2 linked regions of the Homo sapiens genome follow. The protein of the gene in region 2 interacts with the protein of the main gene of each other region in a biochemical or structural test. Each region holds a gene or a part of one and is shown on either strand. Other genes may lie near its edges. The genes, in order: NUP155 and GLE1.

Region 1 (17,332 bases), on a different chromosome or scaffold from region 2:
CCCCGTCTCTACTAAAATACAAAAAAAAATTAGCTGGCCATGGTGGCACACGCTTGTATTCCCAGCTACTCAGGAGGCTGAGGCAGGGGAATTACTTGAACCAGGGAGGAGAAGGTTGCAGTCAGCCAAGATCTTGCCACTGCACTCCAGCCTGGGCAACAGAATGAGACTCAGTCTCAAAAAAAAAAGCCAATGAAGGCCAAGTGCGGTGGCTTACGCTTGTAATCCCAGCACTTTGGGAGGCTGAGGTGGGCAGGTCACCTGAGGTCAGGAATTCGAGACCAGCTTGCCCAACCCGGTGAAACTCCGTCTCCACTAAAAATACAAAAATTAGCCGGGTGTGGTGGTGCATGCCTATAATCCCAGTTACTCGGGAGGCTGAGGCAGGAGAATCACTTGAACCCAGGAGGTTGAGGCTGCAGTGAGCCGAGATCATGCCACTGCACTCCAGCCTCAGCAACGGAATGAGATAAAAAAAAAGGGGGGGGGGTCCAGGCGCAGTGGCTTACACCTGTAATCCCAGCACTTTGAGACTCCGTCTCCCAAAAAACAGGGAGATAGAGACAGAAAGTGGAAAAACAAAAAACAGAATGGAGCATCCAAAATGAGGTATATAACAAAAGTATAGCTGAAATTTCTGAAGAAAGAGAATGTATCAGAATATTTCAAGATAATGGCTGGGCTGGGTGCGGTGGCTCATGCTTGTAATCCCAGCACTTTGGGAGGCCCAGGAGGGCAAATCACTGGAGGCCAGGAGTTCAAGACCAGCCTAGTCAATATAGTGAAACCCCATCTCTAATAACAATACAAAAATTAGCCAGGTGTGGTGGCCCATACCTGTAGTCCCAGCTACTCCAGAGGCTGAGGCAAGAAGTGCTTGAACCCAGGAGGTGGAGGTTGCAGTGAACCAAGATAGTCCACTGCACTCCAGCCTGGGCGACAGAGCGAGACTCTGTCTCAAAAAAAAAAAAAAAAAAAAGACAATGGCTGAACAGAAAAGGAGAGAGAGAGAGAGAAATAAAGATAACAGCTGAAAAAAATTCTAAAAATAATAGAAGACATCAAACTAAAGATCTAAGAAGCTCAGAGAACAAGAAGCAGAAAAAATACCACGAAAAAATATGATCTAGACTTTCAAGAAAGCTTCCAGTCATCCTGAAAAGGCCATCCACACAGGAACAAAATAGCTAAATGGCAACTTATGCGGACTAGGATTCCCCATCCTCTTACATCATGCCATTCCACAGGGCCCTTTGATAACTGGCACAGCCTCTTGGAACTACGATCCAATGCTGAGATATTTGGGGGTTAGAGAACAATGAAATGACCAAGATTACATTTTTATCATCCAGGTGGAATTAGGATTTATAATAGAAAGCCAATTGAATATTTAAACTAAGTATAAATTTTACAAAATTGAATTTGTGGACCTTGTGCCTTGATTTTTTAAAATAAGTACATTCTTCAAATAATTTTTCTTTAAATGAACACACACTGCTATGGATCAAATATCTGTGTCCTCCTAAAATTCATATTAAATCCTAACTCTTAATGTGATAGTATTTGTAGGTGGGGTCTTTGAAAGGTTATTAGGTCATGAGGGTATATCTCATGAATGGGATTAGTGCCCTTATAAAAGAGGACCCAAAGAACTCCCCTACCCCTCTGCCATGTGAGGACAGAGTGAAAAGATAGCCATCTATGAACATTGAAGTGGGCTTTCACCAGACCTTGATCTTGGACTTCCAGCTTCCAGAACCATGAGAAAGAAATTCATGTTGATCACAGGCTATGGTATTCTGTTTTAGCAGCTCGGACTAAGACACACAGTAAGGTAGGACTGTTTGTTCCATGAGGGCAGAACTACATTCATCTCATTCAGTACTGTTCCTACCACAACAACAGTGTCAGATACATAAGATCAATATGTATGTGTTAAATAAATATGTTGGATGTTAATGGAAATGTAAAAAATTTCATTAGTGTTTTTTTTTTTTTGAGATGGAGTTTTCCCTCTTGTTGCCCAGGCTGGAGTGCAATGGCGCGATCTCGGCTCACCACAACCTCCGCCTCCCAGGTTCAAGTGATTCTCCTGCCTCAGCCTCCCGAGTAGCTGCGATTACAGGCATGTGCCACCATGCCAGGCTAATTTTGTATTTTTAGTAGAGATGGGCTTTCTCCATGTTGGTCAGGCTGGTCTCGAACTCCCGACTGCAGGTGATCTGCCTGCCTTGGCCTCCTAAAGTGCTGGGATTACAGGCATGAGCCACCATGCCCAGCCGAAAACATATTTTAAAGAAAACAATTATTCTCACATTTATCTGTTCTGTAATATTTTTGCAATGACTTCTCTTGAAAAGATACATACCTAAACAAAAAAGGTTTCATTATTTAGTATAAAAATGAATATGTTATGGTAACATAACAAAGTGGGGAACATTCAGGGTACATGAAAAATAATCACAATCATACATCACTGCTATTACAACTATTACATTTCAACATGAAAAATTGCTACGAAACTTCTAGTAGAAAAAAATGGTTTCGTTTAAGCTATAGGTGTTAAGCTGTCATTTAGTTTCAATTTTGTTTCAATAATACAGTGTTTTGTTGTTGTTGTTTCTGAGATGGAGTCTCGCTCTGTCACTCAGGCTGGAGTGCAGTGGCACTATCTCAGCTCACTGCAACCTCCATCTCCCAGGTTCAAGCAATTCTCCTGCCTCAGCTCCCGAGTGGCTGGGACTACAGGCATGTGCCACCACACTTGGCTAATTTTTGTATTTTTAGTAGAGACAGGGTTTCTCCATGTTGGCCAGGCTGGTCTCGGACTCCTGACCTCAGGTGATCCACCCACCTCAGCCTCCCAAAGTGCTGGGATTATAGGCGTTTGAGTCAGCGTGCTCGGCCGATACAGTGTCTTTTTAATGCACGTGTGTTCCTAAAAAGATCATTAATTACTCAGGAACAAGAGTAACATCTTAATTATATGGGCTTTCCTATGTTTATCCCACACCTCATCTAAGGATAATGTAATGGACAACTGGAAGTAAAACAAAATCTATCTCTAAAAAGTCAACAGGGAGATCACCAGACCAACATGCTGTATTTAAGCAAAAGTACCTTAGGCTTTCACTCAGAATCATTTCTATACATATAATTTACACACGGGTCAAATTCACAAAATGACAACAAAATAAATAAATATCACATGCCTACTCCATAGAAATGCAAGGAAAACAGAAGTCTTTAAAAATGTCCAATCATCTCTCAATGAATTGCCAACATCTATTTTTACTACGGGCTAACAGCTTGGGACCCGGGCTCCTGCCACTCAAGAATGGCACCTAAACCAGCAGCAGCAGTTGGCAGCTTGTTAGAAATGCAGACTCTTGAGCCTCACTCAGGACTACTAAGACAGAATGCACATTTGAACATCTCCAGATGACTGATACTGAGAAGCACTGACCCAAAGGCTAGATGAATGAAAGATAAACCAAGCAGCTTCTAATGAGAACACTAGCTACAGTAAAGTTTATATAAATTCCAATCACCCTTAAAGCAAACCAGCCTTAAATACATACCCATCCTCATAGTTCCACATGAATATATCACTGTCAATTGTGAGCCAAGCTCTGCTGATAGGAGGGAACACACCCATCATGCAATTACACTGCATATCTGAGGTAGTGTGGATGTAAGGCAGACAGAGGTGAATCTTATTCTTCTTTAACTTGTTTCAATAGCTTTTGACTTAATATTTACGTAAAAAATCACAATGTGTCCACTCTTTAATACAACATGGAACCCATATACTTAAACGAATTTTAAATAAAACCCTTAAATGAATATATAACACATTAATTAAACATAGAACAAGAATTATAAGAATGAAAAATACCAATTTTAACATTTTTAAAATAAATACAAAGTAATAGGATACGTCCAAACTGCTCAACAAGTTCAGGTGGGAGAGGAACTCTTCGGATGGAACTGATCTCTGGAAGGTTGGGTACGGACAGCAAACCAGGTCCTTGCAAAGGATAATCCATATCTGACATGCCAGAAACGGTGGGATTATCTACAAAAAGAAAATGAAGTATTTATAATAATGTACTGCTCATCAACCGGGCAAACAAAAGGATTGAGTGCCACAAAAAAATTGTTGTGTGTTGGTTCCAAAGGTACAGAGAGAATATTCTAGTTTTGACCCAACACAAAGTAGTCCTGAAATATTCCCTTGTGAAGGTAGGAACAGTTACTGGTTTCAGGCCTAAAGGGAAAGTCATATCTCAAAAAACTTGCTCTGTAACAAAGGAAATGTTTATTTTATTTTATTTTTTTTTTTTTTGAGATAGAGTCTCGCACTGTCGCCCAGGCTGGAGTGCAGTGGCACAATCTCGGCTCACTGCAAGCTCCACCTCCCGGGTTCACGCCATTCTCCTGCCTCAGTCTCCCAAGTAGCTGAGACTACAGGCGTCCGCCACCACACCCGGCTAATTTTTTGTATTTTTAGTAGAAACGGGGTTTCACCGTGTTAGCCAGGCTGGTCTTGATCTCCTGACCTCATGATCCGCCCGCCTCGGCCTCCCAAAAGGCTAGGATTACAGGTGTGAGCCACCGTGCCCAGCTGGAAATGTTTAAATTTGATAATTTAGTGTTATTTTAAAATAAAAGTGGCTGGGCGCAGTGGCTCAAGCCTGTAATCCTAGCACTTTGGGAGGCCGAGGTAGGAGGATCATGAGGTCAGGAGTTTGAGACTAGCCTGGCCAACATGGTGAAACTCCATCTCTACTAAAGACACAAAAAATTAGCCTGCCTGGTGGCGTGCGCCTATAATCCCAGCTACTGCGGAGGCTGAGGCAGAACTGCTTGAACCCGGGAGGCGGAAGTTGCAGTGAGCTGAGATTGTGTCATTGCATTCCAGCCTGAGCGACAGGGCAAGACTCTGTCTCAAAAATAAATAAATAAATAAATAAACAAAATGAAAGCATGTAATTGTATTGTTTGTAACACAAAGGATAAATGCTTGAGAGGATAGATACCCCATTTTCCCTGATGTGATCATTTCACATTGCATGCCTGTATCAAAACATCTCATGCACCACATAAATATATACACCGTTGGGCGCGGTAGCTCACGCCTGTAATCCCAGCACTTTGGGAGGCAGAGGCAAGCCGATCACAAGGTCAGGAGTTCAAGACCAGCCTGGCCAAAATGGTGAAACCCTGTCTCCACTAAAAATACAAAAAAATTAGCCAGGCACAGTAGCAAGCACCTATAATCCCAGCTACTTGGGAGGCTGAGGCAGGAGAACTGCTTGAACCTGGGAGGCGGAGGCAGCAGTGAGCCAAGATCGTGCCACTGCACTCCAGCCAGGGTGACAGAGCAAGACTCTGTCTCGGGGAGAAAAAAAAAAAAAAAAAAAAAAAAAATATATATATATATACACACACACACACACACACACACACACACACACACACACAGACGCCTACTATGTACACACAAAATTAAAAATAAAAAAATTTAAAAATAATAATTTAGTGTTTTTCTATCATTTTGCTAATCTGAAATGGGAAAATATAAAACTGCTTTGGGGCTCAAAGGTAAAATGACTATAAGCAAACAAAATAATGACTGGGGGAAAATACTGCCTTTACCAGCTAAACATTTATAGATTAAAACAACCCATGACTTTTCCCTTTAGATTTATCCCCAAGACCACTAAGACAAATACAAATAATACCCCACAAGCAGTATCTTATTGGGGGGATAAAAACAAAGACTGCTCTATAAAGTGTTCTCATGGGCAACCTTTCTCTTGCTCTAAGACTCCATCACTAAGGACAGGAGTGGGCTGGTCTACTCAGCCTACCCTTGCTCCCGGACAAGGCGTTATTTAGACCTGACTGATGACCTACTTATCTCAGGCACTTTCTCAGGTTCTATAGAGTACAAAGATGTTAAGGAAAACTGACATATAAAACAATCTTGAAGTGTATTATGGAAATTTTTAAAATATATATAAGAAAAATACAATAAATACCCATGTACTGATTATCCAACTTAATAACCAGTAATATCCCCAATCATGTTTCATTTTTATCATTGTTCACTCCTTCCCCAATTATCTTTTTATTTTTATTTTTTGAGACGGAGTCTCGCTCTGACGCCAAGCTAGAGTGCATTGGCGCGATCTCAGCTCACTGCAACCTCCAATTCCCTGGTTCAAGGGATTCTCCTGCCTCAGACTCCCGGGTAGCTGGGATTACAGGCATGAGCCACCACGCCCAGCTAATTTTTGTAGTTTTAATAGAGACAAGGTTTCACCATGTTGGCCAGGATAGTCTCAATCTTTTTTTTTTTTTTTTTGAGACGGAGTCTCACAGGCTGGAGTGCAGTGGCCTGATCTCAGCTCACTGCAAGCTCCACCACCTGGGTTCAGGCCATTCTTCTGTCTCAGCCTCCCAAGTAGCTGGGACTACAGGCGCCTGTTGCCACGCCAGGCTAATTTTTTTATTTTTAGTAGAGACGGGGTGTCACCGTGTTAGCCAGGATGGTCTCGATCTCCCGACCTCGTGATCTGCCCGCTTCGGCCTCCCAAAGTGCTGGGATTACAGGCGTGAGCCACCGTGCCCGGCCGGTCTCAATCTCTTGACCTCGTAATCCGCCTGCCTTGGCCTCCCAAAGTGCTGGGATTACAGATGTGAGCCACTGCACCCGGCCGAACTCTTTTTCTCTTTTTTTTTTTTTCCTGAGACGGGGTTTCACTCTGTCGCCTTGGCTGGAATGCAGTGGTGCAATCACAGCTCAGGGCAACCTCAGCCTCTTGGGCTCAAGCAATCTTCCACCACAGCCTCGTGAGTAGCTAGGACTACAGTGTCATGACACCATGCCTAGCTAATTTTTTTTTTGTTTTTGGGGTTTTTTTTTGGGATGGGCTCTCGCTCTGTCGCCCAGGCTGTAGTGCAATGGCGGCTCACTGCAACCTCTGCCTCCCAGGTTCAAGAGATTCTCCTGCCTCAGCCTCCCGAGATGCCAGGACTACAGGAGTGTGCCACCACACCCGGCTAATTTTTGTATTTTTAGTAGAGACAGGATTTCGCCATGATGGCCAGGCTAGTCTCAAACTCCTGACCTCAAGTGATCCACTCACCTTTGCCTCCCAAATTGCTGAGATTACAGGAGTAAACCACCGAGCCCAGCCAAACAGCATTTTTCTTTTTCCTTTTTTTTTTTTTTTGAGACGGAGTCTCACTCTGTCGCCCAGGCTGGAATGCAGTGGCGCGATCTCGGCTCACTGCAAGCTCCGCCTCCCGGGTTCACACCATTCTCCTGTCTCAGCCTCCGGAGTAGCTGGGACTATAGGCGCCCGCCACCACGCCCGGCTAATTATTTTGTATTTTTAGTAGAGATGGGGGTTTCACCATGTTAGCCAGGATGGTCTCATCTCCTGACCTCGTGATCCGCCCACCTGGGCCTCCCATTTCTTTTGAGAAAGAGTCTCCCTCTATTGCCCTGGCTGGAGTACAGTGGCGCGATCTCGGCTCACTGCAACTTCCGCCTCCCTGGTTCAAGCGATTGTCCTGCCTCAGCCTCCTGAATAACTGGGATTACAGCCATGAGCCACCACACCCAGCTAATTTTTGTATTTTTAGTAGAGACGGGGTTTTACCACGTTGGTCAGGCTGGTCTTGAACTCCTAACCTCGTGATCTGCCACCTCAGCCTCCCAAAGTGCTGGGATTATGGGCGTGAGCCACCGCACCCAGCCACTTTTTGTAGAGACAGGGTTTTGCCATGTTGCTCACTCAGGCTGGTCTCAAACTCAAGCTCAAGTGATCCACCCCACTTCCAGGTCCCAAATTGCTAGGATTACAGGCATGAGGCACAGCGCCAGGCCTTTTTTTTTTTTTTTTTTTTTTTTTTTTGAGACAGGGTCTCACTCTGTTGCCCAGGCTGGAGTGCAGCGGCGCAATCACAGCTCCCTGCAGTCTCAACCTCCCCGTCTCAAGTTATCCTCCCACCTCAGCCTCCCAAGTAGCTGGGGGTCCAAGTGTGTGTCACCATGCCAAGCTAATTTTTGTATTATTGTATTTCTTTTCTTTAAGAGGCTGGGTTTTGCCATATTGCCAAGACTGGTCTCAAACTTCTGGGCTCAAGTAATCTGCCCACTTTGGCCTCCCAAAGTGCTGAGACTATTGGGCTGAATTCATATTAAAGCAAATCCAGGCTGGGCACAGTGGGTGACACCTGTAATCCCAACACTTTGGGAGGCCGAGGCGGGCGGATCACATGAGGTCAGGAGATCAAGACCAACCTGGCCAACACGGTGAAACCCTGTCTCTACTAAAAATAGAAAAATGAGCCAGTGGCGAACACCTATGATCCCAGCTACTCAGGAGGCTGAGGCAGGAGCATCGCTTGAACCTGGGAGGTGGAGGCCGTAGTGAGCCAAGATTATGCCAACTGCACTCCAGGCTGGGTGACAGTAAGACTCTGTCTCAAAAAATAAATAAATAAAGCAAATCCAGACATCCCATTTAATCCTAAAACATAACTTTAATAGGCCGAAGGTGGCAGATCACCATGTTAAATGGCAGTGGGAACACAGAGGGAGGAATCGATAACTTTAGTGAGGATGGGAATGCTACGAAAGACTTCAGGCCAGGAGTGTGACTTACATCTGTAATCTCAGCACTTTGGAAGGCTGAGGTAGGAGGACTGCTTGATGCCAGGAATTTGAGACCAGCCTTGTAACAGAGTGAGACTACGTCTCTACATAAAAATTAAAAATTAGCTGGGTGTGGTGGCAGGCGCCTGTAGTCCCAGCTACTGGGGAGGGCAAGGCGGGAGGACCACTTGAGCTCATGAGTTAGAGGCTGCAATGAGCTGTGATCATGCCACTGCACTCCAGCCTGGTAACAGAACTAGACCTTGACTCAAAAAAAAAGAACAAGAAAAAGAAAGACAACAAAGAGAAACTAAGGACTTTCACAGGGAGTCTGGAAAAAGTTTGTCAGGCAAAAAAAGAACATTGCAGAAACAATAAAAGTAAGATAAAATCCTGAGGAAATCCTGAAGATGGGGCTTCTTACGGAAAATATGCTAAATTCTCTGTAATCAGAGCAACGGATGAAAAATTGGATGGAAAAGAAGGGGAAGAGACTGGGTGAAAGAGGAAGGTGTGTGTAAAGGCATGAGATATGTAAGAGAAGGACCAGAATGCATGCACTGTTTTTATATCTTGTTTTCACACCTAAGGAGGCCAAAATGAGTAATGTTGTTCAAGATGATAATTGCTAATAGGCCAATCAGGTATTATAAGACACGCTCATTGGTAAGTAGCTGTAGGGAGCAAATACTATCTTTGTTTCTATCATTTCTTTGATTACAAAGCTATCAATGATTTTTATAAATAATCAGAAGTGTTCTCGGTTTACACTGCACAAATTATCCTATTTAGATTACTTTGGTTCTTGCTCACCAACAATCTTTTCTTTCTTACACTTCGCTGGTTTTCTCCAAATTCCATCTCACAAAGGGGTCACTTTTTCTAGCAACTGATGTAATTCCATAAGCCGTGGGGAGCTGGTTATAACTTAAAACTGTTAAACAAATTACTTTCCAGTCACCTATATTGTCAACACATATTCTGCCTTACTCTCCCTGTACATAAGCACTGTGATTTCCCTGTTCTCTTTCTTTATTCCACTGGTAGTTCTTTTAAGATCCTCCAGCATTTCATAACACACATCTCTACACATAATAAAGCGTTTCTTGGCCGGGTGCAGTGGCTTGCGCCTGTAATCCCAGCACTTTGGGAGGCCGAGGCGGGCGGATCACTTGAGGTCAGAGTTCGTGACCAGCCAGGCCAATATGGTGAAACCCCGTCTCTACTTAAAAAACACAAAAATTAGCCGGGCTTGGTGGCAGGCGCCTGTAATCTCAGCTACTTGGGAGTCTGAGGCAGAAGAATCGCTTGAACCCAGGAGGCGGAGGTTGCAATGAGCCGAGATCGCGCCATTGCACTTCAGCCTGGGCGAAGAGGGAACCGCTCCGTCTCAATAAATAAACAAATAAATATAAAGCAAAGCGTATCTTTAAGATAACATGCTAAATTTCCAAATTAACTTCGTTTGCTCTTACGATCTACTCAAACACTAACAGGAGAAATGAACAAATTTGGGACTTGGATCTGGAGATGCTTCTCATATGGCCTTAGCCATAAGCACTTGAGAGCGGCGAGAAGCTCATTAAGGTTGAGGTCTTTGCCTCTTTCTGCTTCAACTGGGAGCTTGCTCTTCACTCTTGCCCTCTCAAGTATCTACAATGAAGAAAGTGAGGAAAGGAAAAAACCTGAAAAGAAGCTGCTTGCTGTTCTCCAAAAATGCAGCCAACAGTGCCATAAATCTCAGCATATCCTCGCCGGGACCAACGCTGGGGATAAGTAGCAAATTAGGAAGTCAGGCGAGAGTCCTTTAGGTTGAGAAAGCAGGGTCACTATCACTCACTTGGGGCAGACACCATAAGCAGCTCGGAAAGGTCCGGGTACATGCGGTCCTCTTGCAACTGACGGTCGATGAGCCGTCCAGCATTTTCCAGAGCTTCCTGCAGGGCTGCGGCAGATGTAGAGGCCGGCATCGCCGCGCCCAACAAAGAAGACGGCATCTCGGAAATCGTAGACACCAGGGTCCAGAAAAAGTCAAAAACCAAGGAGAAACAAGAAAAGATCCAAGAAGTTAGCTTAGATCCGCCGCCTAGGGCGCGCGCGCCAAACGAGCGCCTTGGCGCCTCGACATGACGCACTTCCGCTTCATCCGGTGGGGAACTGGAAGACGCCGTTCTGGCCTGGGAAGAGGAAGCTGTTGGGAGGGGGCTAGAGGTTGTGGGTGGAGCTAGGAGGCTGCTGATGCTTTCGAGGGGGTTGAGGGTTTTGGGGTGTGGCAGGGTAAAATTAGGGTAGGTTATTTAGGGAAGGGAGGGAGGGAAAGGAAGGGAAGGATAAAGGGGAGGGAACAGGGAAGGAGAGGGGCGGGATGGGGTTGGATAGGGTGAGGAGGAAGGAGGGAGGAGGGATACGGTAGGTGGGAGCTAGGTCGTGTGTCTGGCCTAGGAGGTTGGTCAGGTTCCGTTGGTTTAAGCGCGTGCTCGACCTGAGTCTTGGAACTTCCCGCGTCGGTATCCGCTAACTGCAGCTATATGAGTTCGCGCATGAGCGCGCAGTTTGGTTCTCCAAGTAACTGCTTTTGTGAGAGTAGTTAAGAATTGGTAGGTCGCTGTCACAGAGAGGGATATAAACCAGTATCTCACTATATTCTTCGCGGGCTTCAGTGTAAATTAGAATTCATCAGGCTTTTCCATTTGCGTGTCGCTGTCTTTTGACTTTGTTGCCCCTTAGTATAAAATACGTGTTTAAGAAGAAGCTGAGTGCAGGTGGACCGCTGCCGTGCTTTTTATCGTGGCAGAGATAGCAGACAGTTCTAATTCATCTTTCCATTCCCAGCGCTAGTATAGGAACTCGTATGAGATAGGAACCCAAGAGTTCATACAATCCTAAGAAACTGAATACTTGCCTTGTGCCTGGTGCTGGGACTATCAAACTAACACAGTGTTTCCTGTCCTTAAGGTGCTTCAAGCAGAGACAAAGGGCTTCATTATAATTTTTCTATTTGGATAGGTATAAACTATAGCAGGATAGGAGAAAGCAGAGAGGTAAAAGAGGCTTCATTTACTACAGAAGGCAACCTGAGTGGGTAAATCAAAGCACTTTTTAGAAAGCTGCTCTTATTTAGAATCTCACCTAAGAAAGCTTCCAGTTATGTTCTTCAGAATTTCACAAATCAATAACTGAATTACTCTAAATTGGTCTTTTGCTATTTGAATTACATTTTTACTCCCTCAAAGACTTGACTACATTTCTGAAAATTGAAAGTTCTTTGATGTTACCAATCTACACTTAAAATTTGACATAGCCAATATACCAAGAAAAACTGGATTTTTTATCATTGGTATATAGATAGGCAGTTGGGTCTCTAGCTGTGAGTTTACTTTATTTGGTAGACCATAGATTGAAAAGTGGTGGTCTGGCACCGAGTTTGTTTTTAATTTGAGACAAAATACACAAAGTTTTCAACTCCATAAATTGGAAGATTCAACAACGTTGCTGTGATATTCCTGCATAGAAGTAAAGCTCCCCAAAGTGTAATCTAACTAACTTAATTCATTGGCATATTGCCTATGCTTTCCCACTACAACTGCTAAACCGAGTAATTTCTACAAAAGACTGCAAAGCCTTAAATACGGACTCTGGCACTTTACAGGAAAAGTTTGCTGACCTCTTCCCTAGAACAGATAATTATGAATTTTTTTGGTCTTAGGACCCCCTTGATACCCTTAAAAATTATTCAGGATTCCAGAGAGTTTTTGTTTCATGTTGGTTACATCTATTAATATTTGTGAATAACTCAAACTGAAAATTAAAATGTTTAACATTGTATTTAAAAGAGTAACAAGGCCGAGCACAGTGGCTCACACCTGTAATCCCAGCACCCAGCACTTTGGGAGGCCAAGGCAGGTGGATCACAAGTTCAGGAGTTGGAGACCAGCCTGGCCAATATGGTGAAACCCCGTCTATACTAAAATACAAAAATTAGCTGGGCGTGGTGGCGTGCGCCTGTAGTCTCAACTGTTCAGGAGGCTGAGCCAGGAGAATCACTTGAACCTAGGAGGCAGAGGTTGCAGTGAGTCGAGATCGTGCCACTGCACTCCACCCTGGGCAACAGAGTAAGACTCCGTTTCAAAAAAAAAAAAAAAAAGCATACCAAGCTTAATCCATGTTAATATAACACTTTTTTAAAATGAGAAATCACTATAGTTTCTAAAACAGGGAGAAGAATGCGATTATTTCATATTTTTGCAAATCTCTTTAGTGTCTGGCTCAGTAACGGATGGCTGGATTCTCATATCTGTATCTGCTGTCAATTGAAGAAAAATAACCCTCTTTTAAAGAATTAAAGTCAGTTTGATTCAGACTCAGGATTGCAACCTTTCAGAGAGTTTCTGTTAAGACTGCTCCAAAGTAGCTTTTAGCCCACAGCTTACATGTCAGGGGTTGGAAGCTCTGCATGTGCTCAGAAATTACATTAAACATGCTCATAAACTGGGTATAGTGACTCACACCTGTAATTCTAGCACTTTGAGAGGCCTATGCATGAGGGTCTCTTGAGGCCAGGCATTCAAAACCAACCTGGGCAGCCAGGTGTGGACCTGTAGTCCCAGCTACTTGGTGGGCTGAGGCAGGAGCATCACTTTAGCCCAGGAGTTCCAGGTTGCAGTGAGCCATGACCATGCCACTGCATTCTAGTCTGGTTGATAAAGGGAGACTCTGTCTCTAAAAAAAAAAAAAAAAAAAAAAAAAAAAGCTCATAAATTACATTAGAGCAAAATCTCATCAAAGTTTGGGTGTAAGAGTACATCTGGTTATAGATTACAGAGGCATAATCATGAATCCTATGGGACACTATCTTATGTACTGGAAGAGGCAAGGGGTAGGAACACTGAACTTACCTTTTTTTAAAAAATGCATTGATTGAAGCAAGAGACGTGGGAACCTGTGCTCTAACCTGCTTATTGTTTCCAGGGCATTCTTCTAGAAGTCTATACTTAGTCACTGAGTTGGGCTTTGTGAAATTCTGCTGGCAAGCAGAATGAGCAAACTTGGTTTTTTATGTTTGCTACTTTGTCTAACATGTCAACATTTTGTGACTTATTTAGTTGAAGTATAATATATTAATATTAAGAAAAGCTGGCCTCACCAGGCGCGCTGGCTCACACCTGTAATCCCAGCACTTTGGGAGGCCGAGGCGGGTGGATTGCCTGAGGTCAGAGGTTCGAGACTAGCCTGGCCAACATGGTGAAACCCCGTTTCTACTAAAAATACAAAAATCAGTGGGGCATGGTGGCGCAAGCCTGTAATCCCGGCTACTTGGGAGGCTAAGCCAGGGGAATTGCCCGAACCTGGGAGGCGGAGGTTGCAGTGAGCTGAGATCGTGCCATTGCACTCCAGCCTGGGCTACAAGAGCGAAACTCTGTCTCAAAAAAAAAGAAAGAAAGAAAGAAGGAAAAACTGGCCTCAGTTACATATTTAGAAAAAGAAGAAGTATTTTAATAATTGTCAACAAGTGCAGTCAGTTTTTTTTTTTTTTTAAACAGAGTTTTGCTCTTGTCGCCTAGGCTGGGGTGCAATGGTGCGATCTCAGCTCATTGCAACCTCTGCCTCCCAGGTTCAAGCAATCCTCCTGCTTCAGCCTCCTGAGTAGCTGGAATTACAGGCTAATTTTCTTTTCTTTATTTTTTTTTTTTGAGATGGAGTTTTGCTCTTGTTGCCCAGGTTGGAGTGCAGTGGCATGATCTCTGTTCACTGCAACCTCTGCCTCTCAGGTTCAAGCAATTCTGCCTCAGCCTTCCGAGTAGCTGGGATTACAGGCACATACCACCATGCCCAGCTCATTTTTTTGTATTTTTAGTAGAGACGGGGGTTTTACTATGTTGGTCAGGCTGGTCTTGAACTCCTGACCTCAGGTGATCCACCCGCCTTGGCCTCCCAAAGCGCTGGGATTACAGACGTGAGCCACCGCACCCAGCTACGCCTGGCTAATTTTCTGTATTTTTAGTAGAGACGGGGTTTCACCATGTTGGCCAGGCTGGTCTCGAACTCCTGGCCTTGGGTGATCCTCCCACCTCGGCTTCCAAAGTGCTGGGATTACCCGTGTAAGCCACCATGCCTGACCTGTTTTTCTTAAAGTGATAAACTCATTTCATTTATTTTTGAAAAAATGTTTGCCAAATACTTAAATATGAACAACTGTACTTTGTGAGTCATTCTTTCAGGTAAAAATAATGTTCCATGAAAAAAGCTAACCACTCAATTACAAGTGGTTTTCTTTTCGATGACCATTCTACTTAGATATGCATTAGCTGGGCATGGTGGCGTATGCCTGTGGTCCCATCTACTCAGGAAGCTGAGGCAGGGGAAGATCGCTTGAGTCCAGGAGTTTGAGGCTAAAGTGCTTCATGACTGAACTTGTAAATAGCCACTGCACTCCAGTCTGGGTAACACAGTGAGACCCCATCTGTAAGAAATTTTTTTAAAAACATACTTTATGATTACTTCTCATTTTGTCATACTGAAGGTTAAAAAGACGTATAATTAAGGGTCAGGGTTTAACGAAATGAATACTGTTTATGGCTTTATTAAGGATATTCCTAAGGGAAACTGATTTTGCTTACAACGCCTATGTAACTGAAAAATACAGTGACTACTACAACATTTTGAATCCTACTGCCTTGATTTATTTTAAGGGACTGTTTTAATTTAGGAATTTTAAGATAGAGCATGCTTCTTCAATGATTAGTAGAAACACAGATATAAACAAAGATTTTATTACTTACATGCCTGGCGGGGCATCTGGCGCACCTGGAGGTCAAGGAATGCAGTCAGGGAAAGACAAAGAGGGACTCATGAGCCAATGCATTTATTGGGTTCATGGTGTTTTCCAAATAGATTTCCCAAGAGGAATTCCCACACTTTAATTGGTGGGTTTAAAGCAAGCATGCACAAATTTGAGGACAAGCTTGTCAGCCCAGAATGGCTTTGAATGTGGCCCAACACAAATTCGTTAACTTTCTTAAAACATTGTGAGATTTGTGATTTTTTTAAAGTTCTCAGCTGTTGTTAGTGTATTTAATGTGTTGCCCAAGACAATTCTTCTTCTTCCATTGTGGCCTAGGGAAGCCAAAAGATTGGACACCCCGTTCTTGGAAGTCATGCTGTGACCGAGGTAGTCACTGTGGCATATCTGCACAGTCCATGTAGGACGTCAGTGTCAGCAGGGCCGGTGAAGTAGGCTGTATGTATTTATCCTATGGGGAGGCGGGCACCAGGAGGAAGTTTTACACAATAGATACCTGGATTGATCACATTGAGGAACTGGGAGGAGGTGTAGAACTAGAAACGGTGTCAAGGGTGACTGAACCCTGTTTCTGATATGAGAAAGTCCAACTTATATTCAAAATAAATGCTAAGACAACATAAAATTGTAAGAATTTGGCCGGGCGTGGTGGGCCACGCCTGTAATCCCAGCACTTTGGGAGGCCGAGGCCGGCAGATTGCCTGAGGTCAGGAGTTAGACACCAGCCTGACCAACATGGGGAAACCCCATCTCTACTAAAAATACAAAAAAAATTGGCCGGTCTGGTTGCGCATGCCTGTAATCCCAGCTACTCAGGAGGCTGAGGCAGGAGAATCGCTTGAACCTGGAAGGCAGAGGTTGCAGTGAGCCAAGATTGCGCCATTGCAATCCAGCCTGGGCAACAACAGCGAGACTCTGTATCAAAACCAAAAAAACAAAAAAACGAATACACTACAGGCACCGTAGATTTACCCACTGTTAACCCATTTCCCATTTTCCCTGAGAATACTCTCTGATGGTGCTTGCAGCTGCAGCCTTTACCCCAAGATAACTCACAGATTACAGTCCCGACTTAACCCCCAAAGTTTGTGTCTACTATTTTATTATTTTTGCATCACTCTATTATATTGACTTTGGAAACAAAAGACATTATTCTATTTATAGCATTCTGTTTTTAGTAGTGGAATTTCCATTTACAAAATATAGTAATTCTCGACTGCTGAAAATGTCAAATCCTAGAAAACATAGCATTCCTATGTGTGATGTTAATTCCATGGTGAACTTATGGCACTGAAATGGTGTGACAACAAGGCAGTCACAATGTTGTCAATATTCCACAATGATACTGTGATTGAAGTAGACAACAGATGGAAAGAAAACTAAGAAGCCATGTGTCATTGTGGATTATAACGATAATATGGGAGCAGTGGACTTGGCTGATCAGATGCTCACTTCTTATCCAGCTTAGCGCCAAAGGTACAAGGTTTGGTATAAGATATTCTTTCATAGGCTGTGTGCAGTGGCCCACGCCTGTAATCCTAGCACTTAGGGAGGCTGAGGCGGGTGGATCGCTTGAGCTCAGGAGTTCAAGACCAGCATGGGCAACATGATGAAACCCTATCTCTACAAAAAATACAAAAATTAGGCCGGGCACAGTGGCTCACGTCTGTAATCCCAGCACTTTGGGAGGCTGAGGCGGGCATATCACTTGAGGTCAGGAGTTTGAGACCAGCCTGGCCAACATGGTGAAACTCTGTCTCTACTAAGAATGCAAAAATTAGCCAGGGGTGGTGGCAGGGCCTGTAATCCCAGCTACTCGCAAGGCTGTGGCAGAATTGCTTGAACCCAGGAGGCGGAGG
Region 2 (13,773 bases):
AAATAGTCGGGCGTGGTGGCTCACGCCTGTAATCCCAACACTTTGGGAGGCTGAGGTGGGTGGATCACCTGAGGTCAGGAGTTTGAGACCAGCCTGGCCAACATGGTGAAACCCTGTCTCTAGTAATAATACAAAAATTAGCCGGGTGTGGTGGTCGACACCTGTAATCCCAGCTGCTCGGGAGGCTGAAGCAGGAGAATTGCTTGAACCCGGGAGGTGGAGGTTGCAGTGAGCTGAGATCGTGCCACTGCACTCCAGCCTGGGTGACAGAGCAAGACTCCATCTCAAAAAAAAGGCTGGGCACACAGTGGCTCACGCCTGTAATCCCAGCACTTTGGGAGGCTGAGGCGGGTGGATCGCCTGAGGTCAGGAGTTCGAGACCAGCCTGACTAACATGGAGAAAACCCCGTATCTACTAAAAGTACAAAATTAGCCAGGCATGGTGGTGCATGCCTGTAATCCCAGCTACTCAGGAGGCTGAGGCAGGAGAATCACTTGAACCTGGGAGGTGGAGGTTGTGGTGAGCCAAGATCGTGCCATTGCACTCCAGCCTGGGCAACAAGAGCGAAACTCCATCTCAAAAAAAAAAAAAAAAAAGACCAGCCTGGGCAACATATCAAGACTCCATCTCTATAAAAAATGAAAAAATAATTAGCTGAATATAGTGGCGCATGCCTGTACTCCCAGCTGCTGGGGAGACTGGTTGAGGTGGGAGGATAGCTTGAGCCCAGGAGGTCAGGCTACAGTGAGCCATGATTAGGTCACTGCACTCCAGCCTGGGTAACAGAGTGAGACCCTGTCTCAAAAATAATTAATTTTAAAAATGAAAAAATATATACATCTAGGTTTGTGTAAGGATGCTTTACGATACTCGCACAATGACAAGATCACCTAACCCTGTGTTTCTCAGAACTTACCCCCATTGTTAAGTGACTGACATTCTACTGATTGTGTATACAGTAGCTTACTTCAGAATTCCTCGTGTTCTGTTCAGTGCTTTAGATTGCTTTCACATATGCTTTAGTGGGAATCTTTGTGCATTGTCCCTTTTTCTGTAGTTAGGGTTATTTAGTCTGATTTTCATTAGAAGGATAGTAGTCTAGGTCATTATCAAGAAACCACTGTACTTTGTTTTCATCTGATTGTTAATACATTACTTTGGGTCTTTGATGTTTATTTATTTAGGCCTTCTTAGATGTTCAGTAAGGCATGTAGTGGATTATACTGAGAACAGTTGACGTGTAAGTTGAGCTTAACCCTATTCTTTTCTCTAGGATGTTTTAGAAGAATGTATGTCTCTTCCCAAGCTATCTTCTTATTCTGGATGGGTGGTAGAGCACGTCCTACCCCATATGCAGGAGAACCAACCTCTGTCTGAGACTTCGCCATCCTCTACGTCAGCTTCAGCCCTAGATCAACCCTCATTTGTTCCCAAATCTCCTGACGCAAGCTCTGCCTTTTCCCCAGCCTCCCCTGCAACACCAAATGGAACCAAGGTAAGGTTGTGATCAGCTTAAGACAAAAGACATGGTGGCTGCAAAGTCAAAATGTTTAATATTGTCATATGACAGTGACCATACCCTAGGGGAAATAATGATTGCTCATTGTTGTAGCTGTTGTAGAGACAATGTTGACAGCACCATTCAGTGTTCTCTTTAGACAGATCCAGAGGGAGAAAAATCCCCTCTATTCTTAGTACCGAGAATAGTATAACTAATTTCATGAGCAATTGGATTTTTTTTTTTTTCTGATGAACGCTGCGTCTGTTTAACTGATATGGTCTCCCTTTTTGTGTTATCTGCTGGAAGAAGGCTTAGAGTGAAATGTATACCTTCTCTTTAAGTTTACATGCCTTCTCTCATTGGTTCTGTAGGAGATTTTACCCTATTCCTGGCTCTGTTTTGTCCCTGCCTCTGTTTTTTTGTTATTTCTCCCACTTAAAAATGCTAAACTGGGGCCATTTCCTCTCAGAAGACCCCTCTCTCTCACTAGAGAGAGAACTATTTTCCTTTCTCTTTCTCTTGCCTATTAAACCTCCACTCCTAAACGCAAAAAAAAAAAAAAAAGTTAAATTGGACCCAACACAGTGGCTCATGTCCATAATTCCAGTGCTTTGGAAGGCCAAGACAAGAGGATTGCTTGAGCCCAGGAGTTCAAGACCAGCCTGGGCAACATAGTGAGACCTTGTCTCTCCAAAATACTTAAAAATTGGCTAGGCATGGTGGCTCGAGCTTGTTGTCCTAGCTACTTGGGACATTGAGATGGGAGGATCACTTGAGCCCAGGAGTTTGAGACTACAGTGAGCTGTGATCAAGCCATTACATTCCAGCCTAGGCAACAGAGTGAGTCCCTATCTCAAAAAAAAGTTAAATTTTGGAAGTTTTTTAAAATTACTTTTTATATACTTCTAGAGGTAGTTTGTGTATATACAAATATACGTGAACATGTCTTCTTCTTCACCCTCCCTTTTTTTTGAGCTGAGGTCTGTCTCTGTCAACCAGGATGGAGTGCAGTGGCATGAACATGGCTCACTGCAGCCTCCACCTCCCAGGCTCAATCCACCCTCCTGTCTCAGCCTCCCGAATAGCTGGGACTGCGTGTGGACACCACCATACTTGGCTATTTTCTTTTTCTTTTTTTTTTTTGAGACGGAGTCTTGCTCTGTCCCCCAGGCTGGAGTGCAGTGACGCAATTTCAGCTCACTGCAACTTCCGCCTCCCGGCTTCAAGCGATTCTCCCACCTCAGCCTCCTGAGCGGCTGGGATTACAGGCACCCACTATCACGCCCGGCTTATGTTTGTATTTTTAGTGGAGATGGTGTTTCACCATATTGGCCTGGCTGTTCTCAAACTCCTGACCTTATGATCTGCCCACCTCGGCCTCCCAAAGTGCTGGGATTACAGGTGTGAACCACCACACCCAGGCTTTTTTTTTTTTTTTTTTTTAAGATGGAGTCTAGCTCTGTCACCCAGGCTGGAGTACAGTGGCATGGTCTCGGCTTACTGCAACCTTTGCCTCCTGGGTTCACGCGGTTCTTCTGCCTCAGCCTCCCAAGTAGCTGAGATTACAGGTGTGCGCCACCATGCCTGGCTAATTTTTGTATTCTTAGTAGAGACAGGATTTTGCCATGTTGTCCAGTCTGGTCTCAAACTACTGACCTCAGATGATCTACCCACCTCGGCCTCCCAAAGTGCTGGGATTATAGTCGTGAGCCACTGTGCCTGGCCAGTTTTTTTTTTTTTTTTCTTTTTTACATAGAAAGTATTTTTTTTCTATCTAGTAGTTCATCTTTTAAAATATTAGTCTTTAAAAAATATTCTTTGTGGCCACGTGTGGTGGCTCACACGTGTAATCCCAGCACTTTGGGAGGCTGAGGCAGGTGGATCACTTGAGATCAGTAGTTCGAGAGCAGCTTGACCACAGTGAAACCCTGTCTCTACTAAAAATACAAAATTAGCTGGGCGTCGTGGCGCACGCCTGTAATCCCATCTACTTGGGAGGCTGAGGCACTAGAATTGCTTGAACCCGGGAGACGGAGGTTGCAGTGAGCTGAGATCATGCCATTGTACTCTAGCCTGGGTAACGGAGCAAGACTCAGTCTCAAAATATATGTATATATAGAGACTGAGTAAATAATAACAACAAAATAAATAATATATATATTATAAATATACATAAATATATATATTTATGTTGATTTTGTTGTTGTTGTTGTTGCCAGAAAAGGTCTAGGTACTTTAAAATATATATTTTTAGCAACTGAACGTCTTAAGGAAAAAAAGGAACCTCCACCTAAATGTCATACCTTATATAAAAATTAACTTGGCCGGGTGCAGTGGCTCACGCCTGTAATCCCAGCACTTTGGGAGGCCAAGGCGGGTGGATCACTAGGTCAGGAGATCAAGACCATTCTGGCTAACACGGTCAAACCCCTTCTCTACTAAAAATAAAAAAAAAAATTAGGCGAGTTGGCGGGCACCTGTAGTCCCAGCTACTCAGGAGGCTGAGGCAGGAGAATGATGTGAACGCGGGAGGCAGAGCTTGCAGTGAGCTGAGATTGCGCCACTGCACACCAGCCTGGGCGACAGAGCAAGACTCCATCTCAAAAAAAAAAAAAAATTAACGTGATCATGGACTTAAACATAAAAAAAAAACTGTAAGCCTTTTAGAACTAAAACATAACCAGAATCTAGGGCTGGGTGAAGATTTATTTCTTTATTTATTTTTGAGACGAAGTCTCATTCTTGTCCCCCAGGCTGGAGTGCAATGGTGCAATCTCGGCTTAATGCAACCTCCGCCTCCCAGGTTCAAGTGATTCTCCTGCCTCAGCCTCCCGAGTAGCTGGGATTATAGGCGCCTGCCACCATGCCTGGCTAATTTTTGTACTTTTAGTAGACGGGGTTTCACCATGTTGGCCAGGCTGGTCTCGAACTCCTGTTCTCAGGTGATCTGCCCAACTTGGCCTCCCAAAGTTCTGGGATTACAGGCGTGAGCCACCAGGCCCGGCCTGGGTGAAGATTTATTTATTTAACATTCCTGAATTAGCAGAACTGTAGAGAAGGAGAATAGCTTAGAGATGAGGGATGGGGGAGGAAGTGGTGAGGCTATAAATATAGGTGTGACATGGGGTGGTTGGTGGTGATAGAACAGCTTTGTATCTTGAGTGTGGTGGTGTTTACATGAATCTACATGTGATAAAATTACATAGAACTATACATAAGCACAAATGAATGCCTTTAAAACTGGTGAAATCTGAATAAGCTCTGTGGATTGTACCAATATCAATTTACTGGTTTTGTTATTTTATTGTATTTATGAAAGACATTACTATTGGGGGAGACTGGGTGAAAAGTACATGCGACCTTCCTGTATGTATTTTTGCAACCTTCTGTGAACATTAATTATTTAAAAATTAAAATTTTTAAAAAGTATTTTTATGAGCAGCTTCTTGGCAACAGATTCTGATCTGATCCTGCCAATATTGTGGCGTGCCCTCAGGTGGGCCTCTTTTCCTCAGTGGACTTCAGTGTCTTTATCTGTAAATCTCATTCTGGACCAAATTGCTGAGGTCTTTTTTTTTTTTAATATGGAGTTTCGCTTTTGTCGCCCAGGCTGGAGTGCAATGGCGTGATCTCGACTCACTGCAACCCCAGGTTCAAGTGATTCTCCTGCCTCAGCCTCTTGAGTAGCTGGGATTACAGGCACGCGCCACCATGCCTGGCTAATTTTGTATTTTTCGTAGAGACGGGGTTTCACCATGTTGGTCAGGCTAGGTGACCTCAGGTGATCCACCCGCCTTGGCCTCCCAACATGCTGGGATTACAGGCATGAGCCACCGTGCCCAGCCCGAGGTTATTTTCACGTATAAAATTCCGTAATTTTTGGAGCCACTGCGCCTGGCCTAATAAATTATTAAATGGTTTTATGTAATGGATTGTCACATTATTTAGGAATTTTTGGTATTTACGTAAGAAAAACCCAGTTTGGCTTAAGGGACTGAGGGAAGTATTAATTAGTTCATGTAACTAGGAAGTCTAGGAGTGCATTTGGAATCACCTAGATCTAGGAACATCTACATTCTGCATCTTTCTGCTTGACATTATTTATTATTATTTTTCAAACATCTCCCCCACATAGGATTGATTATTTTTGACTCAATCTAGTGTCCCAAACATGGGGCTTTGCCTCTCCATTTCTCAGTTATTGGTTTCATTGTTGAGATAGATTAGGTGGCAAGATGGCTACTGGTAGCCCTGGACTCAGCATCTTCTTAGGTTAGCATTCCCAGATAGCTTCATCAGAAAAGTTCAAAGATATCCATGTCAGGTGTGTTAATGAAAATAAAAAAGCTGGGTGTGGAATCCCAGGACTTTGGGAGGCCAAGGCAGGTGGAACATTTGAGCTCAGGCATTCGAGACTAGCCTGCGCAACATGGGGAAACTCCATATTTACAAAAAAATTACCTGAACATGATGGCTCATGCCTACGGTCCCAGCTACTCAGAAGGCTGAGGTAGGAGGATCCTTGATCCTGGAAGGTCATGGCTGCAGTGAGCCTAGATAGCACGACTGTATGCCAGCACGGGTGATAGAGTAAGACCCTGTCTCAAAAAAAAAAAAAAGAAAAGAAAAAAGGCGGGGTGCGGTGGCTCACGCCTGTAATCCCAGCACTTTGGAAGGCCAAGGCGGGTGGATCACGAGGTCAAGAGATCAAGACCATCCTGGCTAACATGGTGAAACACCATCTCTACTAAAAATACAAAAAAAATTATCCTGGCGTGGTGGAGGGTTCCTGTAGTCCCAGCTACTTGGGAGGCTGAGGCAGGAGAATGGCATGAACCCGGGAGGCAGAGCTTGCAGTGAGCCGAGATTGCGCTACTGCACTCCAGCCTGGGCAACAGAGTGAGACTCCATCTCAAAAAAAAAAAAAAAGAAAAAGAAAAAGAAAAAAAATAGGCCAGGCATAGTGGCTCATGCCTGTAATTGTAGCACTTTGGGAGCCTGAGGTAGGAGGCTTGCCTGAGACTAGGAGTTTGGGACCAGCCTGGGCAACATGACAAAACCCTGTCTCTACAAAAAAATACAAAAATTAGCCAGGTGTGGTGGCGTGCGCCAGTGGTCCCAGCTACTTGTGAGACTGAGGCAGGAGGATCAATTGAAGCTGGAAGGTCCAGGCTGTAATGATCCGTGATCACGCCACTATACTCCAGCCTGGGAAACAGAGTGAGATCTTGTTTCAAAAAAAAAAAAAAAAAAAAACTTAGAAAAGTTCAAAGATGAACTCTGGCCTTCAGGTCATATTTTTCATTCCTCAAGTCCATACTGGGTGTAGGAGGATAGCAGACTTTTTTTTTTTTTTTTTTTGAGACGGAGTCTCTGTATCCCAGGCTAGAGTGCAGTCGTACGATCTCTGCGCACTGCAAGCTCCACCTCCCAGGTTCACGCCATTCTCCCGCCTCAGCCTCCCGAGTAGCTGGGACTACAGGCGCCCGCCACCATGCCTAGGCACGTGCCACCATGCCCGGCTAACTTGTGTATGTTTGGTAGAGACAGAGTATGTCTTGTGTATGTTTAGTAGAGACAGGGTTTAGTAGAGACAGGGTATGTCTTGTGTATGTTTAGTAGAGACAGGGTTTCACCATGTTGGTCAGGATAGTCTCAAACTCCTGACCTTGTAATCCGCCCACCACAGCCTCCCAAAGTGCTGGGGAAAAAGGTGCCTGGCCTTTTTTTTGAGATGGAGTCTTGCTCTGTCGCCCAGGCTGGAGTGCAGTGGCGCGATCTCAGCTCACTACAGCCTCCGCCTCCTGGGTTCAAGGGATTCTCCTGCCTTAGCCTGCCTCCTCAGTAGCTGGGATTATAGGTGCGTGCCACCACGCCTGGCTAATTTTTGTGTTTTTAGTAGGGACGGGGTTTCACCATGTTGGTCAGGATGGTCTCGAACTCCTGACTTTGTGATCCGCCCACCTCTGCCTCCCAAAGTACTGGGATTACAGGCGTGAGCCACCACACCCGGCCTGAGGATAGAGTACTTTGATAGCCAGCTTTCTCCTGAAGCCAGGAGGATGGAAGCTTAGGGATGTAGGTTGGGGATACTCCATCCAAAGCATCCCAGGATAAATGGACACTGATCTGAAGAAAGGGGAAACATTTTCTAGGCAGAGTAAAACAAACAAGTCAAAAAAAACATAGAAAAACCCAAAAAATCACCCAAAGTAACAAACATCAATTTATTAAAGAAAACAATTAGAACAAAGTCAATGTCATTCATGAAAAGCACACTAGTTCTGACCTAAATTTTTTTTTTGCTCTTGTTATTGGTGGTTGTTCATAAGTTGGGATGTGGTCTTTGTCTAGAAGAGATAACACCAACTTTACCATATTAAAAACTTATTTTTTAATTATTTTTCCATTTTCTGCTCATATAGGGCAAAGATGAGTCCCAGCACACAGAATCTATGGTACTTCAGTCCTCACGGGGGATCAAAGTGGAAGGCTGCGTCCGAATGTACGAACTGGTACACAGAATGAAAGGAACAGTAAGTGAACCCATGAAGGAAGGCAGCCTTGATCCTGCGAGCCACATTTAACTGCAGTTCCCCAGGGCGTAGGAATGGGCACTGTATGCTACTCATCCTTCCCACCTACTGTTTAGTTTTGGGGGTAGTGTAATAGAGGTCAGGAGTGAGTGCTCTGAAGTCAAGTCTGGTTTCAGATCCTGGCTGTTACATTTTACATGTGACTTTGGGAAAATTACTTAGCCTTTTCTGGCTTCCATTTACTTCTCCAAAATTTGGAAATGGTCTGGGATTGTTAGATAAGCTTATTCTGAGAAAATGGGACCTTAGCCTCTTTTTTTTTTTTTTTGAGGTGGAGTTTTTGCTCTTGTTGCCCAGGCTGGACTGGACTACAGTGGTGTAATCTTGGCTCACTGCAACCTCCACCTCCCAGGTTCAAGTGATTCTCCTGCCTCAGCCTCCCAAGTAACTAGGATTACAGGCTCGCGCCACCACACCCAGCTACTTTATTTTCTATTTACTAGAGACGGGGTTTCACTATGTTGGTCAGGCTGGTCTCGAACTCCTGACCTCAGGTGATTCACCTGCCTCAGCCTCCCAAGGTGCTGGGATTACAGGCATGAGCCACGATGCCCAGTCAGGACCTTAGCCTCTTGAAAAAATAGCAGCACTATTTTAATTAATTTATTTGATTGTATTTTGTTTTTGTTTTTGTTTTTGAGATGGAGTCTTGCTCTGTTGCCCAGGCTGTAGTACAGTGGCACCATCTCGGCTCACCGCAAGCTCCGCCTCCCAGGTTCATGCTATTCTCTTGCCTCAGCCTCCCAAGTAGCTGGGACTACAGGTGCCTGTCACCACGCCCAGCTAATTTTTTGTATTTTTAGTGGAGACAGGGTTTTGCCGTGTTAGCCAGGACGGTCTTGATCTTCTGACCTCGTGATCTGCCCGCCTCGGCCTCCCAGAGTGCTGGGATTACAGGCATGAGCCACCGTGCCCGGCCTGTTTTTTGTTTTTGTTTTTTTGAGACAGAGTCTTGCTGTTGTCAGCCCGGGCTGGAGTGCAGTGGTGCAATCTTGGCTCACTGCAACCTCCGCCTCCTGGGTTCCAGCAATTCTCCTGCCTGAGCCTCCCAAGTAGCTGAGATTACAGGCGCCTGCCACCACGCCTGGCTAATTTTTGTATTTTTTAGTAGAGACGGGGTTTCACCGTGTTGGCCAGGCTGGTCTCAAACTCCTGACCTCAGGTGATCCACCCACCTCAGCCTCCCAAAGTGCTGGGATTACAGGCATAAGCCACTGCGCCCAGCATGTATTTTTTTTTAATTAGGAAAGCAATGCATGATCTTGTAAAAATGTTTCAGAGTACAGGAATTTAGAAAATGAAAGTCTTGGCCAGGCACGGAGGCTCATGCCCGTAATCCCAGCACTTTGGGAGGGTGAGGCAGGTGGATCACCTGAGATAAGGAGTTCCAGACTGGCCTGGCCAACATGGCGAAACCCCATCTCTACTAAAAATACAAAAATTAGCCGGGCATGGTGGCACATGCCTATAATACTAGTTACTGGGGAGGCTGAGGCAGGAGAATCACTTGAACCCGGGAGGCAGAGGTGGCAGTGAGCCAAGATTGTGCCACTGCACTCTAGCCTGGGCAGCAGGGCAATACTTTATCTCAAAAAAAAAAAAGAAAAAGAAAATGAAAGTCTTCTAACATCTTGCCTCATTGGTCATTGAGTCAATAAATATTTGCTGAGCACCTATGTGCTAGATGCTGTTCCAGGTCTAGATAAAACAGTAAACATTATAGACATAGAGCTTATATTGTGGTGGGAAGAGACAGAAGTAAACAAGAGAAATAAGTAAAATATTTGGAACATTGTTGTAATCTGGGTGAAAGATGGTGGTTGCTTAGAGTAGGGTGGTAGCAATGGAGATGGTGAGAAACGACTAATTCTGCATATCAGAGTTGTTTTAATTCAAAGATTTATTTCCTGCATCTTTGGAAATTTTTCCCCTTGATTAGTTCACCTCTCCATTGCCTAAGTTAATCCTCTATATGTCCTATTCTTTCTTTCATTTTCCTTTTGTCTTATTGTTTTGTTTTCTAGAAGATTTCTATATTTTATTCTCCACCTGTTGATTGAAAAAATATATATGTATTTATTATGTCTAATTTTCATGAGTTTTTTTGTATTCTCCACTTCTTCCTTTTTCAGAGCATCTTATTCTCATTTCTTATCATATTCAGAGCTCTTTTTCAGATTCACTTGTGTTCCTTGATATACATGTCCTTCTGGATTCATTATTTTTTATTTGTTCATCTTGATCCCTTTTAGGATATAGAGATTCCTCAGTTATCTAAAGATCCTTATTGCTAGTAATCAGATCAGAGATTCAAGGGGAATAATCAGAAACAAGGTTATTAAGCTTTAGGACTTCCTAAGTGCCAGCATATTGTTTTGGAATACTAGTTCCCATACTGATTAGCTGTTTCTGGACAGTTTATTCATTTTCTTAAAAAAAACTCACGTGCCTGGCCTATTTTTTTTTTTTTCCGTATTCTGTTAGTCACGGTAGTCATAAAGTCCACTCAGGTTGAAGTAGAGGGTATGGAAGGATTGTCAGACAATTTGCAGATCTGTTTTAAAATCATTACAGCACAGGGCCGGGCCTGTTGGCTCACACCTGTAATCCCAGCACTTTCGGAGGCCGAGGCAGGCAGATCACTTGAGGTCAGGAGTTTGACACCAGCCTGGCCAACACAGTAAAACCCTGTCTCTACTAAAAATACAAAAATTAGGCAGGCATAGTGGTGCACGCCTGTAATCCCAGCTACTCAGGAGGCTGAGGCTGGACAATCACTCGAACCTGGGAGGTGGAGGTTGCAGTGAGCCAAAATCGCACCACTGTACTCCAGCCTGGGTGACAGAGTTGAGAATCCGTCTCTAAAAAATAAAAAATAAAAATAAAATAGCTGGACATGGTGGCTTGCACTGGTAATCCCAGCACTTTGGGAGGCCGTGGTGGATGGATCACGAGGTCGGGAGTTCGAGACCAGCCTGGCCAACATAGTGAAACCCCGTCTCTACTAAAAATACAAAAATTAGCCAGGCATGGTGGCAGGCACCTGTAGTCCCAGCTACTTGGGAGGCTGAGGGAGGAGAATCGCTTGAACCCAGGAGGCGGAGTTTGCAGTGAGCCAAGATTGCACCACTACACTCCAGCCTGGGCGACAGAGCGAGACTCCAAAAAAAAAAAAAAAAGCTGGGCACTGTTGCGGGAAGTCAGGGACCCCAAATGGAGGGACTGGCTGAAGCCATGGCAGAAGAACATGGATTGTGAAGATTTCATGGACATTTATTAGTTCCCCAAATTAATACTTTTATAATTTCTTATGCCTGTCTTTACTGCAATCTCTAAACATAAATTGTAAAGATTTCATGGACACTTATCACTTCCCTAATCAATACCCTTGTGATTTCCTATGCCTGTCTTTACTTTAATCTCTTAATCCTGTCAGCTGAAGAGGATGTATGTCGCCTCAGGACCCTGTGATAATTGCATTAACTGCACAAATTGTAGAGCATGTGTGTTTGAACAATATGAAATCTGGGCACCTTGAAAAAAGAACAGGATAACAGCAATGTTTAGGAAACAAGAGAGATAACCTTAAACTCTGACCGCCGGTGAGCTGGGCAGAACAAAGCCATATTTCTCTTCTTTCAAAAGCAAATGGGAGAAATATCGCTGAATTCTTTTTCTCAGCAAGGAACATCCCTGGGAAGGAGAATACGCGCCTGGGGGTAGGTCTATAGATGGCCCCCTGCATGTGGCCGTCTTTTATGGTCTGTAGACTGTAGGGGTGACATAGACCCCAGTCTCCCATAGCGCTCCCAGGCTTATTAGGAAGAAGAAATTCCTGCCTAATAAATTTTGGTCAGACCGGTTGCTCTCAAAACCCTGTCTCCTGATAAGATGTTATCAATGACAGTGGTGCCTGAAACTTCATTAGCAATTTTAATTTCACCCTGGTCCTGTGGTCCTGTGGTCCTGTGATCTCGCGATCTCGCCCTGCCTCCATTTGCCTTGTGATATTCTGTTACCTTGTGAAGTACTTGATGTGTGTGACTCACACCCTATTCGTATACTCCCTCCCCTTTTGAAACTCCCTAATAAAAACTTGCTGGTTTTACGGCTTGTGGGGCATCACAGAACCTACCGACATGTGATGTCTCCCCCGGATGCCCAGCTTTAAAATTTCTCTCTTTTGTACTCTGTCCCTTTATTTTTCAAGCTGGCCAATGCTTAGGGAAAATAGAAAAGAACCTACATGACTATTGGGGCAGGTTCCCCAATAGGGCACCCGTGGCTTACACCTGTAATCCCAGCACTTTGGGAGGCTGAGGCGGGAGGATCACAAGGTCAAGAGATCGAGACCATCCTGGCCAACACTGTGAAACCCCGTCTCTACTAAAAATACAAAAATTAGCTGGGCGTGGTGGCACATGCCTGTAAACCCAGCTACTTGGGAGGCTGAGGCAGGAGAATCGCTTGAACCTGGGAGGCGGAGGTTGCAGTGAGCCGAGATGGTGCCAGTGCACTCCAGCCTGGGTGACAGTGTGAGACTGTGTCTCCAAAAAATATATATATATATGTATATATGTGTGTATATATATGTGTATATATGTATATATGTGTATATATGTATATGTGTGTATATGTGTATATGTGTATATATGTATGTGTGTATATATGTATATATGTATATGTGTATATATGTATGTGTGTATATATGTATATATATGTATATATGTATATATATGTATATATATATAAAAAATACAATAAAATCATTATAGCACAAATGCTTGGCTCTTGGCTGTTTTGATCTAATGACTAGGGGAAGACAGCAAGAGTTGACTGTTTTGTCTACAAACATTTAGCCGGTAGCTCCGTTTTCAGCCTGATGAGGCCCACCTATATGAGTCGTGGCATTTCCCAGTCTTGAGACTCTGCAGTTCGGCTGGTAGATTGGCTTTCTGCTCCCGTGAGGCATCGTCTGCTTCTCACACACATCGTGTGTGTGTGTGTGTATCCTTGGGTTTTCTCAGCTCTGCTCTATCATTTATTGCTTCTCCACTATTTTTTTTTTTTTAAAGACAGGGTCTCGCTCCGTTGCTCAGGCTGGAATACAGTGGTGCAATCACCGCTCCTTGCAGCCTTGACCTCCTGGGTTCAGGCATTCCTCCTACCTCAGCTCTTTCTGCTTTCTAAATAACTGGGACTGCAGGTGTGCACCACCACAGCCAGATAATTTTTAAATTTTTGGTAGAGACGGGGGTCTCTCTGTTGCCCAGGCTGGTCTCGAACTCCTGGGCTCAAGTGATCCTCCCACTTTGGCCTCCTCAAGTGCTGGGATTACAGATCTCAGCCAGTGCACCTGGCTATTTCTCCACTGACTGTTTTCCAGAAGTATGTAGAAGATTTTTCCCTGCTGGTGACATCTCTCATGCTCTATGTGGTGTTATGTCTTTTTTTTCTTTCCAATTCTCACTTTAACAGAGTCCCAGAGGAGAGGACATATATGCTTGTTTAGTTTGCCTTCTTTCGCTGGAAGCTTTAAAATAAGTTTTAAGACTGGGTACAGTTGGCTTATGCCTATAATCCCAGCAGTTTGGGAGGCCAAAGTGGGAGGATAGCTTGAGATCGGGAGCTCTAGACCATCCTGGGCAATATAGTGAGACCCTGACTCTATAAAA

Evidence for each region.
Region 1: the proteins of GLE1 (region 2) and NUP155 form a complex in vitro, tested with the Homo sapiens proteins (2 studies listed by BioGRID).

The regions. Positions count from the first base shown.
Region 1 is NC_000005.10:37,360,307-37,377,638, forward strand, and holds the start of NUP155 (nuclear pore complex protein Nup155), read right to left. Parts: upstream 10,801-17,332; 5' UTR 10,672-10,800; coding exon 10,515-10,671; exon of another isoform or gene 10,360-10,514; intron 4,079-10,359; coding exon 3,941-4,078; intron 3,679-3,940; coding exon 3,582-3,678; intron 1-3,581.
Region 2 is NC_000009.12:128,507,602-128,521,374, forward strand, and holds part of GLE1 (mRNA export factor GLE1), read left to right. Parts: intron 1-1,274; coding exon 1,275-1,496; intron 1,497-7,927; coding exon 7,928-8,038; intron 8,039-13,773. UniProt on the Homo sapiens protein: Required for the export of mRNAs containing poly(A) tails from the nucleus into the cytoplasm. May be involved in the terminal step of the mRNA transport through the nuclear pore complex (NPC).